Homo sapiens: one gene and its partners. The protein of the gene in region 1 interacts with the protein of each later gene in a pairwise test. Each region holds a gene or a part of one and is shown in the gene's direction. Other genes may lie near its edges.

The links.
Region 2: the proteins of CDC42EP2 (region 1) and ARHGAP26 interact in binary tests that used the Homo sapiens proteins (3 or more experiments, as listed by UniProt).
Region 3: the proteins of CDC42EP2 (region 1) and CASS4 interact in binary tests that used the Homo sapiens proteins (3 or more experiments, as listed by UniProt).

What each region holds. Positions count from the first base shown.
Region 1 is NC_000011.10:65,317,700-65,323,570, forward strand, and holds the end of CDC42EP2 (cdc42 effector protein 2), read left to right. Parts: intron 1-2,822; exon of another isoform or gene 2,823-2,844; 5' UTR 2,845-3,199; coding exon 3,200-3,832; 3' UTR 3,833-4,718; downstream 4,719-5,871. UniProt on the Homo sapiens protein: Probably involved in the organization of the actin cytoskeleton. May act downstream of CDC42 to induce actin filament assembly leading to cell shape changes. Induces pseudopodia formation in fibroblasts in a CDC42-dependent manner.
Region 2 is NC_000005.10:143,221,208-143,229,026, forward strand, and holds the end of ARHGAP26 (rho GTPase-activating protein 26), read left to right. Parts: exon of another isoform or gene 1-216; intron 217-1,150; coding exon 1,151-1,239; 3' UTR 1,240-7,800; downstream 7,801-7,819. UniProt on the Homo sapiens protein: GTPase-activating protein for RHOA and CDC42. Facilitates mitochondrial quality control by promoting Parkin-mediated recruitment of autophagosomes to damaged mitochondria.
Region 3 is NC_000020.11:56,457,049-56,461,490, forward strand, and holds the end of CASS4 (cas scaffolding protein family member 4), read left to right. Parts: intron 1-1,291; coding exon 1,292-1,699; 3' UTR 1,700-3,334; downstream 3,335-4,442. UniProt on the Homo sapiens protein: Docking protein that plays a role in tyrosine kinase-based signaling related to cell adhesion and cell spreading. Regulates PTK2/FAK1 activity, focal adhesion integrity, and cell spreading.

The sequences.
Region 1 (5,871 bases):
CAGTATGACACCCCTTCATAGCTATTTATTTTTACACATTAAAAATAGCTTAATTTTTTTCTGACTACATAAATATGTGCATATAAATAATACATTGCTTATTAGTAAGAATTTGAATTCATAGAGGTCTGAACAAGAAAGGAAACATCAACCTGAAATTCTACCACTTTGAGAAAACCACTGTTCCATCTTTTCATATTTATATATATTACACACATTTATCATGTCATAGTCATGGGACCAAAATATTATAGGTTATTTTTATTGATGACTCCTTTCCTCCCATATCAGTGACCCCACCCCCCATCCCTGCTGTGTACCCTAGTCAAGGTAGCCCATATGACAACCTAGGGCTGGCCTTCTAGATTTTTCTCTGTGTTTTAAATTTTTTTTTTAATTTTTTTTATTTTTTTTGAGGCGGAGTCTCACTCTGTCACCCAGGCTGGAGTGCAGTGGCACGATCTAGGCCCACTGCAACCTCTGCCTCCTGGGTTCAAGCAATTCTTCTGCCTCAGCCTCCTGAGTAGTTGGTATTACAGACTTGTGCCACCACACCTGGCAAATTTTTTTTTTGAGACGGAGACTCTCTCTGTTGCCCAGGCTGGAGTGCAGTGGCGCGATCTAGGCCCACTGCAGCCTCTGCCTCCCGGGTTTAAGTAATTCTTCTGCCTCAGCCTCCCGAGTAGCTGGTATTACAGACCTGCGCCACCACACCTGGCAAATTTTTTTTTTTTTTTTTTTTGAGATGGAGACACTCTCTGTCCCCCAGGCTGGAGTGCAGTGGTGCGATCTCAGCTCACTGCAAGCTCTGCCTCCCGGGTTCACGCCATTCTCCTGCCTCAGCCTTCCGAGTAGCTGGGACTACAGGCGCCAGCCACCATGCCCGGCTAATTTTTTGTATTTTTAGTAGAGACGGGGTTTCACCGTGTTAGCCAGGATGGTCTCGATCTCCTGACCTCATGATCCGCCCGCCTCGGCCTCCTAAAGTGCTGGGATTACAGGCGTGAACCACCGCGCCCGGCCTAACACCTGGCTAATTTTTGTATATTTAGTAGAGATGGGGTCTCCACATGTTGGCCAGGCTGGTCTCGAACTCCTGATCTCAGGTGATCCGCCCACCTCGGCCTCCCAAAGTGCTGGGATTACAGAAGTGAGCCACTGCACCTGACTTTTTTTTTTTTTTTTTTTTTTTTTTTTTTTTTTTTTTTGTATAGGACAGAATTCTACACAGACCTGTACCCATGCAGTTACACAACATGCATATGTGTCAGAGCAGGGAGGCAGGTAGGTAGTCAATGCTTTCAATAAATGGATGATCTATATTATGTTTTTGCATTTTGCTTCTCTCTCTCTGCAATGCCCTGTGGGAATCCTCCAAAATTTTTCACCTGTAGGTTCACCTCAGGTTCAATTTTGAATTTTGACACCTCTGATTTTTTTTTTTTTTTTGATGGAGTCTTCCTCTGTAGCTGAAGCTGGAGTGCCGTGGGGCGATCTCGGCCCACTGTAACCTCCACCTCCGGGGTTCAAGCGATTCTCCTGCCTCAGCCTCCCAAATAGCTGGGACCACAGGCATGAACCACCACGCCTGGCTAATTTTTTGTACTTTTAGTAGAGACAGGGTTTCACCATGTTAGCTAGGATGGTCTTGATCTCCTGACCTCGTGATCCACCTGCCTCAGCCTCCCAAAGTGCTGCGATTACAGGTGTGAGCCACTGCACCCAGCCCCAACACCTCTGATTTTTAAATAGGGTTGATAATAGGGTGGTTGTGTTGATTAATTGAGATGTGTCTGCAAAGAGCGCAGAAGAATTTCAGGTACAGAGCAGAGGCCCCCTCAACTAAAAAATATATGTACTCCCCACTCCACCTTCTCTTTAGATGCCAGGGTAGGGAGGAAGGCCAGAAAGTATCCTAGACTCAGCCCCTACCCATAAGGAACTCTTAATAGGCAGAGGAGAAAACACGACCCCACCTCCAGGTGGGACATGATTGGGTCAAATGGGAAGTGCCAGCCACCCAGCACCCTTGGCCAAACATCTGCTGTGCTCCAGGTCCCCGCCAGGCTTGGGCGGGAGAGACAGTGGTCACAAAGCTCTCTGTCCTTGGTCAAGTAGGGAGTCAAGGCCATTTGTGAGGCCCCCCACAATCTGGCACTTACATTGTGGGGCACAGGTGATGTGCAATGGAGGTGGGGGGTATGGTATGAGTACCTGGATAAGGGTGATGAGACCTACTTTGCCGGGGACCCAGGGCAAGAGAATAGAGCAGGACTTTCTGTGTGACTTTGGACCTGTCATTCAGGTTCCCACCTCAGTTTCCCACCTGTAAGGGGAGGAGCTTGGCCCTGGTGGTGAGTCTATAAGATGCAGTAGGTCTTAGAGTGAAGACATGCTTCTCCCAGTACAATTCCCTGCAAGGGGAGTGCCCCACCCCCTCAGGATCCCATGGCTACCACAAGAGGCCCAGAAACAAGATGTTTCTGGCCAGGCACGGTGGCTCACACCTGTGATCCCAGCATTTTGGGAGGCCGAGGCGGGCGGATCATTTGAGGTCAGGAGTTCAAGATCAGCCTGGCTAACATGGTGAAACCCTGTCTCTACTAAAAAAAAATGCAAAAATTAGCCAGGCATGGTGACACGTGCCTGTAGTCCCAGCTACTCAGGAGGCTGAGGCAGAAGAATTGCTTGAACCTGGGAGGTGGAGGCTGCAGTGAGCTGAGATTGCGCCACTGCACTCCAGCCTGGGTGACACAGTGAGACTCCATCTTAAAAATAAAAAAGATGTTTGCATCTGACCTTGGTCCCGCTGTCTCTGACAGGTGTGCACCCTTTGTGTTTCAGCTCCTCAGCCCTGGACCGGGGACAAGTAACCCTCGGTGACAAGACCAAAGTGCACTGCTGCCCACACAGTTCCTACCTTTCTGGCTTCAATTCTTCAGAAGAGTTTGCCGTCCTTTGGGGAGAACGTGATTTTTGTTATCTCAGCCCACTGACTTCATTGATCTCTAATCTTTTTTAATTCCTTGGGCCAACTTTGTTCGTGCCCCCACACTGTAGCCAGAAGCCCGTTGGCGAGCTCTGGCACCTGCAAACCACCCCGTGGAACGAGTGTTTCCTCTGGCTGAGGGTTGGAGAGGAGGTGTGGTCTCAGCAGGCGGCCCGTAGCCTCACAGCCAGGCCTGGTGGTGAGGTCACCATGTCCACCAAGGTGCCCATCTATCTGAAGCGTGGCAGTCGCAAGGGCAAGAAGGAGAAGCTTCGGGACCTGCTGTCCTCGGACATGATCAGCCCACCGCTGGGGGACTTCCGCCACACCATTCATATTGGCAGTGGCGGCGGCAGTGACATGTTTGGCGACATCTCCTTCCTGCAGGGCAAGTTCCACCTCCTGCCGGGGACCATGGTGGAGGGGCCTGAAGAAGATGGCACCTTCGACCTCCCCTTCCAGTTCACCCGCACCGCCACCGTGTGTGGGCGGGAGCTCCCGGACGGCCCATCCCCTCTGCTCAAGAACGCCATCTCCCTCCCGGTTATCGGTGGACCCCAGGCTCTCACCCTGCCCACAGCCCAGGCTCCACCCAAGCCCCCTCGCCTGCACCTGGAGACCCCTCAGCCTTCCCCACAGGAGGGAGGGAGTGTGGACATCTGGAGGATTCCAGAGACTGGCTCCCCCAACAGTGGACTGACCCCGGAGTCAGGGGCCGAGGAGCCCTTCCTGTCCAATGCCAGCTCCCTGCTGTCCCTGCACGTGGACCTGGGGCCTTCCATCCTGGATGATGTCCTGCAGATCATGGATCAGGACCTGGACAGCATGCAGATCCCCACATAGGACACGAGGCTGCCTAGGCTGGGGTCCCAGGTGGGGCCCAGCCAGGAGGTGGGGTGTGGACCCGGCCCTGGCGGCGGAGTCAGGGTCCCAAGATCCCACCTGTATGGTCGCTGGCCAGTGATTCTCCTTCTGAGCCGTGTTTCCCCTCTCCCTCCCTCTCCACGTGGGCAGGGCAGGCCCCATCGCTTTCCTCTGATAACCACATGGACACATCCTGAAGTCAGCCCAGGCGCCCTGAGCATCTTGGGGCACCTGGACCCCATCACAATACTCCTTCTTCCTTCAGGTCCCTGGGTGAAGGCTTTGCTGAAACCGACCCCCCTTTTCACGTCCCTTCTGCCTCTGCCCCGTTGGATGCCCTGACTGGGGGCAGGGGAAGAGACAGGGCACAGCTGGCCACAGGGCTCAGCCACTGAGCAGGCTGTTCCGGGCCTTTGGCTTTGCATCCTGGACGGGGAGTGTCCTGTCAGGGACCAGATGTGTCCTGCCTCATCCCTAGCTCCAATCCCTTCCCCACGTGACCGGGGATTCTGGTTGCAATAAAACATGCTGCTGCTGGTGGCGGAGCTCCCTGTCCCTTTGCCCCAGGTTTCCTCCCGGAGGCAGACAGTCTCCCAGAGCTGAGGGCTTGCCTCTGGAGACCCCAGCCCCAGAGGGCTTTGTGGAGGACAGGCCTTGCCCTCAAGAACGTCGTACCTGACGCTGAGCCTGTCATGAGAATGCAACAGGAGCAAACCAAGTGTTGCTGTGACATTGATTCAGATGTTTGGCAAGAGGTGGCTGAGCACTGGGGTGGGCTTGGCACTGTGCCAAGCCTGGGGCCAATCCCTGCCCAGTCAGCTGGGGTCTGGTGGGGGACACCCAAGAATAAAAGAATAACCACAAAGTGTGCAAGGGACCAACAGCTTCTCCAGCTTAAGAGCACCGAGGGAGCATGCAGGAGGGATGCTTGGAGCTGGGAGGGTCTAACAGTGCTGCTTCAAGATTCATTCCATCCACGGCTGTTTACTGAGCATCTCCAGTATACAAGGCACGGCTCCGGGTGCTGGGGATACAAGGCAGACGCCATCCCTGCTCTCTAAGAGTTTAAATTCTAGTTGGAAGGGGGATATTAAATTGGTAAACAAATAAGAGATGATTTCCAGCAGTGGTAAAGGCTACGAAGAAAACAACGTGATCAGGAATGCCTAGCAGGGAGGTCAGGGAGTGTCAGGGCTCATTAATGTGATCAGATGTGATTCTGAGCCAAATCGGAGCTACCAGCCAGATAACTCATATGTAAGCACAGGCACTGAGGAACCAGAGTGAAGACAGAGCAGACACCACACAGCAAAAGAGCGTGGACCTCCGAGTTGCACCTGGCCTGAGACTCAGTTTCCCCATCTCTAAAATGGAGCAGGCCAGGCATGGTGGCTCACACCTGTAACCCCAGCACTTTGGGAGGCCAAGGTGGGTGGATCATGAGGTCAGGAGATCGAGACCATCCTGGCCAACATGGTGAAACCCCGTCTCTACTAAAAATACAAAAATTAGCTGGGCATGGTGGCACGTGCCTGTAATCCTAGCTACTAGGGAGGCTGAGGCAGGAGAATCACTTGAACCCGGAAGCTGGAGGTTGCGGTGAGCCGAGATTGCGCTACTCCACTCCAGCCTTGGTGACAGAGTGAGACTCTATCTCAAAAAAAAAAAAAAAAAAAAAAGAGCCACTGATAGCTACCTCACAGGGTTATTGAGAAAACTAGGGATAACATTTATACTAGCCACAGGGAAGGGTTTTTTGTTGTTGTTGTTGTTGTTTTGTTTTGTTTTGTTTTTTTCTGTTGAGACGGAGTCTCACTCTGTTGCTCAGGCCGGAGTGCAATGGCACAGTCTCAGCTAACTAAACTCTGCCTCCCGGGTTCAAGCTACTCTCCTGCCTCAGCCTTCCAGGTAGCTTGGATTACAGGTGCACGCCACCATGCCTGGCTAATTTTTTGTTTTGTTGTCTATTTGTTTGTTTTTTTGTGTGTGACAGAGTCTCACTCTGTCACCTGGGCTAG
Region 2 (7,819 bases), on another chromosome or scaffold:
ACAATGGTTTCCATGGAGATGGATCATGATGTCACAAAAGTAGATATATATTCTTTGGATACTGAAAAATCAAAGGGCAATAGAGGGAGGAAGAGAAGAATTTTCAAACTGGTATATAGAGGAGGGGGAAATCTAGAGAACAGGAAAGAAAACTAAGAAAGGGTGTGAGTGAAACAGAGAAATGGCTATTCAAAGGCTATTCAAAATGACAGCAACCAAAAAAAAAAAAAAAAAAAACCCCAGAAAATTTGCAAGGAAATTAGAAGCAGGGGGTAAGGATTTGAAGGAAAGTAAGATGATGACAAGAAGCTGGATTGATTGATTGAGACAGGGTCTTGCTCTGTCGCCCAGGCTGGAGTGCAGTGGTGCAATCACGGCTCACTGCAGCCTCGACCTGCTGAGCCCAAGCGATCCTCCCGCTTCGGCACTCCCCCTCCTCCAAGTAGCTGGGACTACAGACACGCTCCATCAAACCTAGGTAGTTTTTGTATATTTTGTAGAGACAAGGTTTTGCCATGTTGCCCAGGCTGTTCTTAAACTCCTGGGCTAAAGCAATTCACCTGCCTCAGCCTCCCAAGGTACTGGCATTACAGGCGTGAACCACCAGGCCCAGCCTCTAGAAGCTGGATATCTTTAAAGAGTAGTTCTTAGCAGTCTTCCATGGGCACTGCACTGAGTACATAGTTGATACTGGGCAGGTGGGTGGGTGGATGGATGGAAGGAAGGAAGGAAGGAAGGAAGGATGGAAGGATGGATACATGTATGGATGGACCAGGACAACTGTTGCCCTCTAACAAGAGTAGGAATCTGTCACTTCTTTGTAGTTTAAACCAGGAGCTTCAGAAAATCCGTGAAACCCCTAAAATTGTACACAAAATTTTGTATGTCTGTGTCTGTTTCCTTTTTCATTGTAAAGAAAGTTCAGGACAGCTTTCATCAGAAGGCTTATATTCCACAAAAGGTTCAGAACCTTTGGTTTAAACTTCTAGAATGATGTAACTTAATAAGTGATTGTACTCATTGTCCAAGCTTCCTTCATACACACACACACACACACACACACACACACACACACACCCCACACACACATCTGCCGCCTGCTCTATCTGTAATGCCATCTCTTCTCGCTTTCTCTCCCCTTCCTGTACAGTTCACCCATCTCAGGAGCCTGGCTGGTTGGAGGGGACTCTGAACGGAAAGACTGGCCTCATCCCTGAGAATTACGTGGAGTTCCTCTAACCGTGGGCCCCAGCAGAACTGCTGAGCTTTACATGGTATCCATGACAACTGCTGATTCCAGTGTCGAGGCCATTTCTCTTTGCCACTGAGAAATGCAGCGTGACTGACTCTGTTGCTACCTGTCAACATGAATGTTTCTGTGAGCTCTGGTGTCACTCATCTCCATGATCATCTCAGCCAACATGCATCAGTACTGCAAGAAAAGAAGTCAATCAGCAGAGGAGAGCATTTGATAACTAAGAGGAAGACTTGCAAAGCCGTTTTCTCATGAGTACCCTGAATAGGGGGCACTCATTTTGTTTCAACGGTCCAAACGCCCAACCTTCAGAAAGAGGAAGTCAGATAGAAATAGTCCCTGAGAGCACACTGTGTAGCTAAGCCTGCTGGGGCTGGGTGAAGAAATTGGCGCTGAGATCCAGGCTGGATCCATTGCTTTTGTTTACAATAGGCACTCTCTCTACCCCACCTCTCAGTACTTGAGACTTAAAGTGCTACAGGCAGCTGGATCTGTTTGCATGCAGGATGAAGAGGGTTAAAACACTGTTTATATAAGATCCAATCTCTCACCATCTCTAAAGCAGCCGTTGGCCTGTCATCAGTGAGATACAATCCAGTCTTCTCATGCACGGGAACACACACACCCTGCGTTTCTCCCTCCCAGGCTAGGAACCTCTCTGCCACCAAGGGCTGCCATCCATCGCCTAGTAACCACGGCAACCCAACCTACTCTAAAACCAAACCAAAAAAATAAAATAACACATCCTCTTTGCATGACACATTTTTTTTCTCCCCTTTTTGGTACACTTTTTTTGAATGGTTTTCTAACAACTTGAAGCACAGGATCAAGGAATTAGGGTGGTCTACTTGAGGCAGATGGGATAGTAGCTGGGAACTGTTCCCTTTCTGATTAATTTCAGCAGCATCGGAATATATTTGGAGCACACCCTAGTAACCTCTTGAGATTAAATTACATAGTCTTAATATTTCTGTTCCTCCATGCAACTGATGTTTGTTTTTTAAAGGGTAAGATGCTGCCTCCCAATGGGTGATGCCATCTGACTGGTTTCCCCATGTCCTCCCATTCACCCATCTCTGCTCCCACCCTTGCCTGCCTCTAACCCACCACTGGCCAGCCCCCTTGCCCTACTCTGGGCTGCTGAACACTGGTGCTGTGGTGGTTTTCAAGGTTAATTCCTAGGCTAACCGTATGGCCTATAGTTTAAAAGCACATCTATGTTCACTGCCACTCTGAAAAAGGGAATTATTTCTCAGTCTTTCAAGGCTTGAGACTAATATAGGCCATTGTGATTCAGGAAGAAACCCAAGGTTGGAGGGTGGGATGAGTACCCTCTGAAAAAGGGAATTTGCTGGTGAAAAGAGGCTGGATCTTGTGGAAGACTGTCTTGGATGGGGAAGTACTACCTGGAGATTTCAAATTCACTTGGCCTGCAAACAACAGAGTTATCCGTATCTTCCACATGTGAATGTCATTGCAAGGGTGACTCTAGACAAACTACAAACCGATGGACCGTCAAGCTCCCCAGGAGCCCCTTGGATGGCAGCGTTGCTTCAGAGTGTTTCCTGTTTCTGGAATTCCTTGTTAGGGAACTTTAAAGAAGAAAAGAAAAACTTGAATTGTGTTGAATTACTGTATCTTTTACTTTTTTTTTTTTGAAAAGATAAACTTGTAAATAGAGTGATTTGAAATACTATATGGCAAAGTTTTATATTTGATATTCTTTAAGTTAGTTGCTCACACACTTAGGCTTTGATTGCTGAAGAAGTATGTTTAAGAGGGAGAGAGGGGAGGCAAAGCTGAAGAGAGTCAAGGTCACTGTCCCCGCTTCGGCCTGAAGGAAAGAGAAGACATTTCTATGGCCTTGCTCTCTGCTGTCCTGTTGGTGGGCACGACACATCAGTGGTGTTCAGTCTTTATGTGTTTTTAAGCATCCCTTGGGCTTTGGATTTGGAGATGGGAAGAGCATCTCCAGGCAATGAGTTTTTCAAAGAATGCCTACTTAGTAGTAAGATGAAGCTCAGGATTTAAATAAGTGGGGTCAGGCATTCGAGTTTTTGTCTTTCTTCTCAGGTGTATTTCTTGGTACCCCCAAGATATCAGGCCAGAAAGAGATGAGTCAGTTGCTGTGCTCTTTACTTCTTTTTCTCCACATCTTCTGAGGCTTTAGAAATGTGGACAAGCTAGTTTTCAAATTTTGTGTGCGTCTGTAAGTTCTTAAAGAACCAGCTTCTTAGAATGTTCAGTTCTCAATGTGCTGCTGCTTTCCCTTCTCCTAAACATTTTAAAACTCTTCCCTTTCACCTCCAATTCCCGTGATCCCAAAAGAAGAGGAAGACTCCAGGAGGGGTATAGATTGTGCCGTCATAGCTTTACAGGTGGTTTTAAAGTTAACAGGGGTTTGTCATGGTGATTCACTACTCAGTTTATCAGCTCAAGGATTATACAGCTCTTTTCCGGGAACTCACCCAGGAGCAAGCGAGACACTACCATTGAATCAGGGAATGAGAATTAAGAATGGACAGGACCAAGACAGAACTCAAGAAAGCCACTGGGGAAAACTCGAGAAGAAAGGGAGTATACTAGTAGGTTAGATCTGTGAACCTGAGGACAAGAAGACCTTGGGAAATGGAGGCCTCAGGGGATGTGCATTCACATACTATTACGCTTCTCAAAGAGAGACCAACATCATGCTTTTAACACATTTGATGAGGTTTTTTATTTGTGTTTTTGTTTGTTTTTTGAGATGGAGTCTCACTCTGTGGCCCAGGCTGGAGTGCAGTGGCGCAATCTTGGCTCACTGCAACCTCCACCTCCCAGGTTCAAGTGATTCTCCTGTCTCAGCCTCCCAAGTAGCTGGGACTACAGGCATGAGCCATCACACCCAGCTAGTTTTTTGTATTTTTAGTAAAGATGGGGTTTTGCCATGTTTGCCAGGCTGATCTCGAACTCCTGACCTCAAGTGATCTGCCCACTTCAGACCCCCAAAGTGCTGGGATTCCAGGTGTGAGCCGCTGCGGCCGACCACATTTGATGTTTGAAGTTGTAATCTGTCCCATCATAAACTTACCTGGAGCTCATGTGGAGGAACAGAAGGCCAAGATCCTTGCTTTGGGGGTGCCTCACGAAGCATCCCTGTAGACATTTGGCCCCAGCTTCACTGCTTGGAAGCATGTCCCTCCCTCTTGAGTTGGCTCTGATTTGAAATCGGGAGAAACAGAGCTGCTGCCAATGGGATCTTTTAGGTAACTCCCTCCCTAGCTTCCGTGTGTCTGTGCAGTGCCCATGAGCTGCTGCCAATGGGATCTTTCAGGTACCCCCTCCCCAGCTTCCCTGTGGCTGTGCGGTGCCCTTGACAGATGGCTTCTCTGTTTCCCTTTGCCCAGCCAGGCTCCCCTCCTTCCTATTAGCTACAAAACTGGATAAACTTCAGAATATGAGCCAATGAGTAGGAAGGAACTTGAAGACTAAAGATTTTACTCTCTCCCCTATCCATGCCCCCTACCTCTGACTCTCTCTGTGTGAACAGGAAACTTTAGGGCAGATGAGGAGAATGAATTGGTTATCAGAGTGGAAGACCATGGCCCAGGATCCCTGAGCTTTCCCAGTAGCCTCCAGTTTCCTTTGTAAGACCCAGGGATCACTTAGCCATAGCCTGAATCTTTTAGGGGTATTAAGGTCAGCCTCTCACTCTTCCTTCAGGTTACTAACAAAATTTCGTAGCTAAAGAATGCCATGGCCGGGTGCAGTGGCTCACGCCTATAATCCCAGCACTTTGGGAGGCCGAGGCGGGCGGATCACGAGGTCAGGAGATTGAGACCATCCTGGCTACGACGGTGAAACCCCGTCTCTACTAAAAATACAAAAAATTAGCCGGGTGTGGTGGCGGGCGCCTGTAGTCCCAGCTACTCTGGAGGCTGAGGCAGGAGAATGGCATGAACCCAGGAGGCAGAGATTGCAGTGAGCCAAGATCACGCCCCTGCACTCCAGCCTGGGTGACAGAGCCAGACTCCGTCTCAAAGGAAAAAAAAAAAAAAAAAAAAAGAATGCCATGCCAGGAGAAGACAGCTGGTTTCAAATCCCTGCCCCCAGGCAAGTAAAACCCTGACTTGCTCAAGACAGAAGATCTTTTCTCCTGTTTTTCAAAATAAACATATATAGGGATGGACCCTGTGCATTGTGGCCTGCCTTGGTGTCCTAGAATTGGAGCCAGTCTTTAGCTTAATGTCTGAAGTATTTATACGGCCAATATGTGTTTTCTTATGTCAGACCACACTGTCTTTTTGAATATCAGTTCATTTCCTCTCACCGAGTGCTTTTCGGTGAGAGGCAAAGAGAAAGAATGAACAATCAAGTATTGACAGACTGGCATTAGCAGGACAGAGCCATACTAGTGACAAGGGCATCCCAAGGCACTTGCCCAGAGCTGCAGAGTTGTGTGTGCCATACCTGCGGCTCAAAGGGAAGGCCTTCTATCCCCTGAGTTTCTATCAGCTGAAAATGGCAACTGCTGTCTCAGTAAAAGCTCTGTCTTGACTGCAGAGGCTCCAAAAGCATTCACAGTTGAGGGGGAGAAAGACAGAAAGAAGAAGCCAAAGATAACCTGATCCCTGCCTGTCTGTTGGCACCTGTCATCCTCTGGCTTCTGCTCCCAAAAGCAAGTCTGGATGACTGAGTTTTGTGGACATGGCACTCCCGGAGACAGCAGTGGCCACCATGGCACCCAGAGTTTGCCCAAGTACTGAATGTTTTGTGAGCAACCATGTTCCCCAAGTAGGTAGCCAGCGCTGCAGAAACCAAACAGCCTCTTAGCTACCTGACTTTAAAAGGAATGACCTAGGTGTTCTGCCAAAGGAGTTATCTATCATCTCTGGCAAACTTGACAATCATCACTTACCTCGACAACCCTGCCCCACATCACTTTATAAAGTCAGCAGGATGTCTTCTCACCCACCCTGTGCTGGTGTCTAACAAATTTATCTTGTCATGCTCAAATGTGTTTGGCAGCCACACCGATCGGCTGGGTGCTGAACCGCCTCTCTGTAATTGTAGCATCAAAATGACAACAGCAGCAGAGCAGCGAATCTTGCACAGCCCCACAGCATGCCTGAGACAAGACTCCAACAAGTAATAATTAGCTTTTTTTCTCCTGCCGCCTACAGTACCTGTCTAACTAAAGAGCTTCCCAAAGTGGAGGGAAAGGCCATAGAATCCAGGTGTCATTCAGAGCCAGTCCTTGCTGAAATGTGGTCTTCCAGTGGAAGCACCTGTATTATTGAGAGGAAAAAGTGTTGGATGCAAAGTAACACCAGGACTAGAGAGAAAGAGAAAGGTGAACCATCCTAAGGAGCTTTGGATACTTTTTTAGAAGGATAAATATTATGCTTACTGAGGAGAAAAAAAAAAGCGATCACAGAAAAATTTCACAGCTAATATTTTTACAAAAGTTGTGCCAGACATTACAGAGTGAAAACGTCTCTCAAGGTGGAATGCTTTAGAGAGCAAAGGCTTAGCATAGACCTAGACCCTTGTGTGGGTATGACATGACATGACATGTCCATGTCAAAATTCACTTTAGTCAGAACCAGAGTATTGATAAACAAAATGTCAGTTACCTGGAGCAGTCCTGGAGAGGTTAAGACATTCTATACTGTTCTACGTCAACCATTTCTACAAAGTTGTCCAGACACCTAAAAGCAGCTTTCTTGGTTATCCAGATGCCAGAATCAACCTTGTATCTGACAATGCACATCTGTTGATTCTAAAGTATATTTATGTGTGTGTGTATGTGTGTGTATACAGCACATATTTACATCTATGAAGACATAGACACTTACAGAGACCCACATGAGCTGGCACTTTCTGAGCCTTTACAGCCTTTAAGACTCGGAGGTTGAGAATTAGAGACACAAGAGAGGCTGTGGATGGCCTATTAAAATGATTAAAGATGTAAATTCAGTGCCATTTTAAAACTGTTCATATTTATCAAACAATTACTGTCTACAGCTACATTTTTTGTTAACTTACTTAAAGTCATGTCGCAAGAAAGATCAAACCCATGAATGCTTAGTAGCTAAGGCTAGTGTTCAAAAGCACTCTAAAAGACATTTTGTCCACATTTTGGAAAAGAAAATATTTGCATGTTTAATTCATAATTTAGGCTATCTTTGAGTATACTGTAAAGTGCTGTGTGATATAATATCAATAAAGTACTTATTAAATGGCACTTTAATGTTTTCTTTTAAAATAACGCACTGTTCTAAACTTCAGTATTGACTATTGACTCGTGCATAGAATCCAATGCTGTAATTAGAAAGTAATCTGTGACTAGAATAGACCTTTGTCCCTGTTAGTAGCCCTGTTGCCATGTTCAGGCTTTTAAAAAATGCTTTTGTGTCACCAAATATATCTATAAAGAAAACAAAATTTCTGTTCAGAGGCCTCTGAAACTTGGCTTTCTTACATGTGGTTGGTTTATGTGACAATCCCTATGAAATGAGTGGACGTATGATTTTTGAATTAAATGACTTTTCCATTTGGTGGTATTTTCTTGAGTTTCTGATA
Region 3 (4,442 bases), on another chromosome or scaffold:
CACTTTCTATGACAAAGACAATCATTGTTTTCATTTTCCAAATATGCAATTCTAATAATGAAGGTGCTTCTTCGAAGTATGCCTTCCTCTTCCTTGTCTAACTTCCCCTCCAACCCTACTAGGAGACATAACCCCCTTCTGAAAAAATCAGTTTTATGCCCTATCTGTCTGAATGCTTCCGGGCTATGAATTTTGAGATAATAGGTAAATGCGAGCGTGTGAAATTTAATGGAAAGAAAGCAAGTTTCAGACCTAGAGCTCCAGATCTCTCATGTGCTAATGGAATAGCCGGAGGCAGCCTTTTCTCTTCTCTGAGCTTCACCTTTCAATTGTTACCTGGAGTTGTGGCCACTAAGTTAGGTACTGAAAATCTTTGAGAGTATGTAGGATTTGGGAGAAGTTGGTTCCATTTTCCAGAAAATAAAATTCATGAATGTAAAATTTTGATGAAACCTTATTAGCAAATATGATAAATATTTTAATATTAAGGCAAAAAATAAAATAAATAATATTAAGGCAGATAGGTCAGGGTATTTAGTTGCTTCTGGAAATGTTGAGAGTTCTGATATATCTCTGATACTGAAATCAGAGGATTTTTGGCTTTTTAAATGTTTTTAAATCTGTTCTTTGAGAAAATTTTAAATCTCATCAAGTTTTTGTGCATTTTTAAAAGTTACAAATTTAGCTGGGTGCAGTGGCTCACCCCTGTAATCCCAGCACTTTAAGGAGGCTGAGGTGGGCAGATCATTTGAGATCAGGGGTTCAAAACCAATCTGGCCAACATGGTGAAACCCCATTTCTGCTAAAAATACAAAAATTAATTGGGCATGGTGGCAGGTGCCTGTAATCCCAGCTACTCAGGAGGCTGAGGCAAGAGAATTGCTTGAACCCAGAAGGTGGAGGTTGCAGTAAGCTGAGATTGCACCATTGCACTCCAGCCTGGAAGATAAAGGAAAACTCTGTCTCAAAAAAAAAAAAAAAAAAAAAAGTTATAAATATAGTCATTGCCAATGTGTTTCTTAAAATGGGTTTCTTGTAGTTGGTTTATTGAGATGATTGAATAAAATTATATATGTATGTATTACAATATAATATTGTATATATTATATATTACAGTGCTTTGAAAACATTAATTTGTTAGACAACTGTTGCAGTATTGGGCTTCCCAAACCAAACCATGCTTTTTTAAAAAAAATAAAAAGTCTTGCAAATCTAGCCAAAACAGGAAAGGGCAGACAGCCACAGCCCATTGATTGAATCTCCTATCTATTTTCTTCCTTCCCTTCTTTAGAATCCTGGCCCTCTTATACCTCAGCCTTCGAGTCAACAGACTCCTGAGAGGAAACCCCGCTTATCTGAACACTGCCGGCTCTACTTTGGGGCGCTCTTCAAAGCCATCAGCGCATTTCACGGCAGCCTCAGCAGCAGCCAGCCCGCGGAGATCATCACTCAGAGCAAGCTGGTCATCATGGTGGGACAGAAGCTGGTGGACACGCTGTGCATGGAGACCCAGGAGAGGGACGTGCGCAACGAGATCCTCCGTGGCAGCAGTCACCTCTGCAGCCTGCTCAAGGACGTAGCGCTGGCCACTAAGAATGCCGTGCTCACGTACCCCAGCCCTGCCGCGCTGGGGCACCTCCAGGCGGAGGCTGAGAAGCTGGAGCAACACACGCGGCAGTTCAGAGGGACACTGGGATGAGGACTGTCTACCTCCCTTCCTCCTCTGCTCACCTCTCAGCTTCACACCCACAACTTGTGCAACTCTGCCCTATGGGAAAAGCCAGCCGGGGCATACACCAATGAGCTGAAACAGACCTGGTGCCCAAAGCTGGTAGTACCAAGTGGCTAAGCAACCCCAGGGCATTGACTTACCCCGCAGGGGGTCAGGAAAGAGAGTCAGGTATGAGGTAAAGACCTTGTGAAGTTTAGCATATATGGAGTATGCAGTATCAGCTTGAAGTGACTTCGCAGAAATAATATTTTATATTGATTAAATGTGTGCATGTTTTGTTTGTTTTTTGAGACAAAGTCTCACTCTGTCACACAGGCTGGAGTGCAGTGGCGCGATCTCAGCTCACTGCAACCTCCGCCTTCTGGGTTGAAGCAATTCTCCCGCCTCAGCCTCCAGAGTAGCTGGTACTACAGGTGTGCGCCACCATGCCCAGCTAATTTTTGTATTTTTTTTTAATGAAAGGTCTCACATATTTATTACTGAACCCAGCCAACCAATGCATTCATAACAGATTCAGAAAGAAAAAATATATTCCCAATAAAACATGTACAATTCTCCAGAGAGCGGTGACATTTTCAGCTTGATGTGGTAACATGACTGTGACCTTCAGACAGCATAAATATGTGTGCCCTCTCATGTGCAATTCCTTATAGGGCTAGCTTGGTTCTTCTTCAATGTCTCCTTTTGGAGTTGTACCTGATTTTATTACCAGTTTTCATCTGAATCCACTGGGGAGTGGGGCGATTTTGTTTTAATTTCTCGGTCAGGAATCACTTAATCCTGGAAGTCTTATGAGAAGACATGGCAAGAAGCAGAGTCAAGCACACACCACAATGGCAGAGAAAGGAAGAGCTAATTTTTGTATTTTTAGTAGAGTCGGGGTTTCACCATATTAGCCAGGCTGGTCTGGAACTCCTGACCTCAGGCCATCCCCCGCCTCGGCCTCCCAAAGTGCTGGGATTACAGGCCTGAGCCACCATTCCTGGCATGTACGTGTTTTAAATTCACTCATTTAACACTTATGTATTGGATGCCTACTACATGCCAAGTTCTAGGTGCTGGAGACATAGCAGTGTTTCAGAGGGCTTGCCCTCTTGGAACTTATGATCTAGTAGGGGAGTCAGGCAGTAAAGCGGTGAAGAAATACATACACAGTATAGCAGGTGCCAGGAAAAACGTAAGTAGGGGAAGTGCAAGAGAACTTATCTTCAAATGGTTAATTTTTATTGCATCCATTAGATAATAGAGTAAGTTTTTTGTTGTTTTGAATTGAATTAGTTCTGTGAGATTGGTACAAATTATGTATGTGTCTTGCACCCATAAATATATATTTTTGCTATGTTACTTTAACCTAAAGATAGATGTTATATTTACAACATAACATGATCTGTTGGGTTCTCTATTAATTTATTTCATACATTATAGATTCTGGGTTGATAAATTCTGCTCAATTTGAAAAATTTTATATTTTGTCTCAAATCTGTTACAATTTATATTGGTTGGTGCAAAAGTAATTGCGGTTTTTGCCGTAGACAGTAATGGCAAAAACCACAATTGCTTTTGCACCACCCTAATAATATTAAATATAATCATGACTTTAAACATCATTTGCAGCATTCTTTTTTTGGAAAAGTCTTTGATCTGTGTCACCCAAGTGAAGCCTCCGATGTTTACTTTTGTCACTCCAGTGCTTCTCCCTGAAGTCTGCAGAGAGATGGAGTAGAGGCCCTGCTCTTAGGCACCGGATTGGTGCTGGAAAACAAAGCCATCACCTGTGGTGGTGCAGACAGGAAGGCGTGGTGTGGACAGGATGCCCATCATTGGGCACAGATATGAAAGTGGCACAGAGCTCCCCTCAACTCAAACCACCTCCTCTTCCTCTCCTTGTAGCTGAGTCCTCAGCTCACGTTGCCATGGTTACATCATCACTTCATTTTAAGTGATGGTCTGGGCCTCCTAAATGCATAAACACCTCTACAGCTTGGAAGAGCATCTCCAGGCTGTAAGTCACCTGAAATGATACCAAGTCCAACTCCTATCTGCTACTCTTTCCTTGGTAGGCACTTGTAAAATGTTGACTGCTGGAGGCTGGTTATTTTTATTAAGTTAGTCTCAGGGTCCTTAAAAAAAGGATCCCATCTTTGTGAGGCTTGGTTCTCTACAACTGGACAGAGGCCCTCCAGGGGGCCTATTCTTTGAACAGCCATGATCTGCATCAGTTAGGACTTCTCTTACAAGGGATAGAAAATCATACCCAATCTGTCTTAAGCAGTAAAGGAAATTTATTAACTCATATGTCTTAAAATCATCCAGAGGCAAACTAGCCGCAAGGCTGGCTGGTTTCAGGGGCTCCAACAGTGTGATCCAGGACCAGTTTCTCGGTCCCACTTGCTCTGGGTTAACCCCCATGATTGCAAGGTGGTTTTCCCAGGTTACACTCTTCTTGATTCTTGGCCAGAGGAGAAGAAAAGGACTTCATTCGGCTTGGACTGGCTTAGATCAGGTGCTGCTCCTGAAAGCTCCATGATAAGCAGGGCATGGAACACCCAAGTTAATTTAGATCTGGAATTCCTACCCACCCCACACTCACTCTCCCATGGGTCCTGAGAGGTAACGGGATTGCTCTTTCAAGCACTGTGATGGGCCTGAGGTTTCATCTTTGAAATTAACAAGTTAACCTGTCACCATTTCATGGATGCAGACAGAAGAT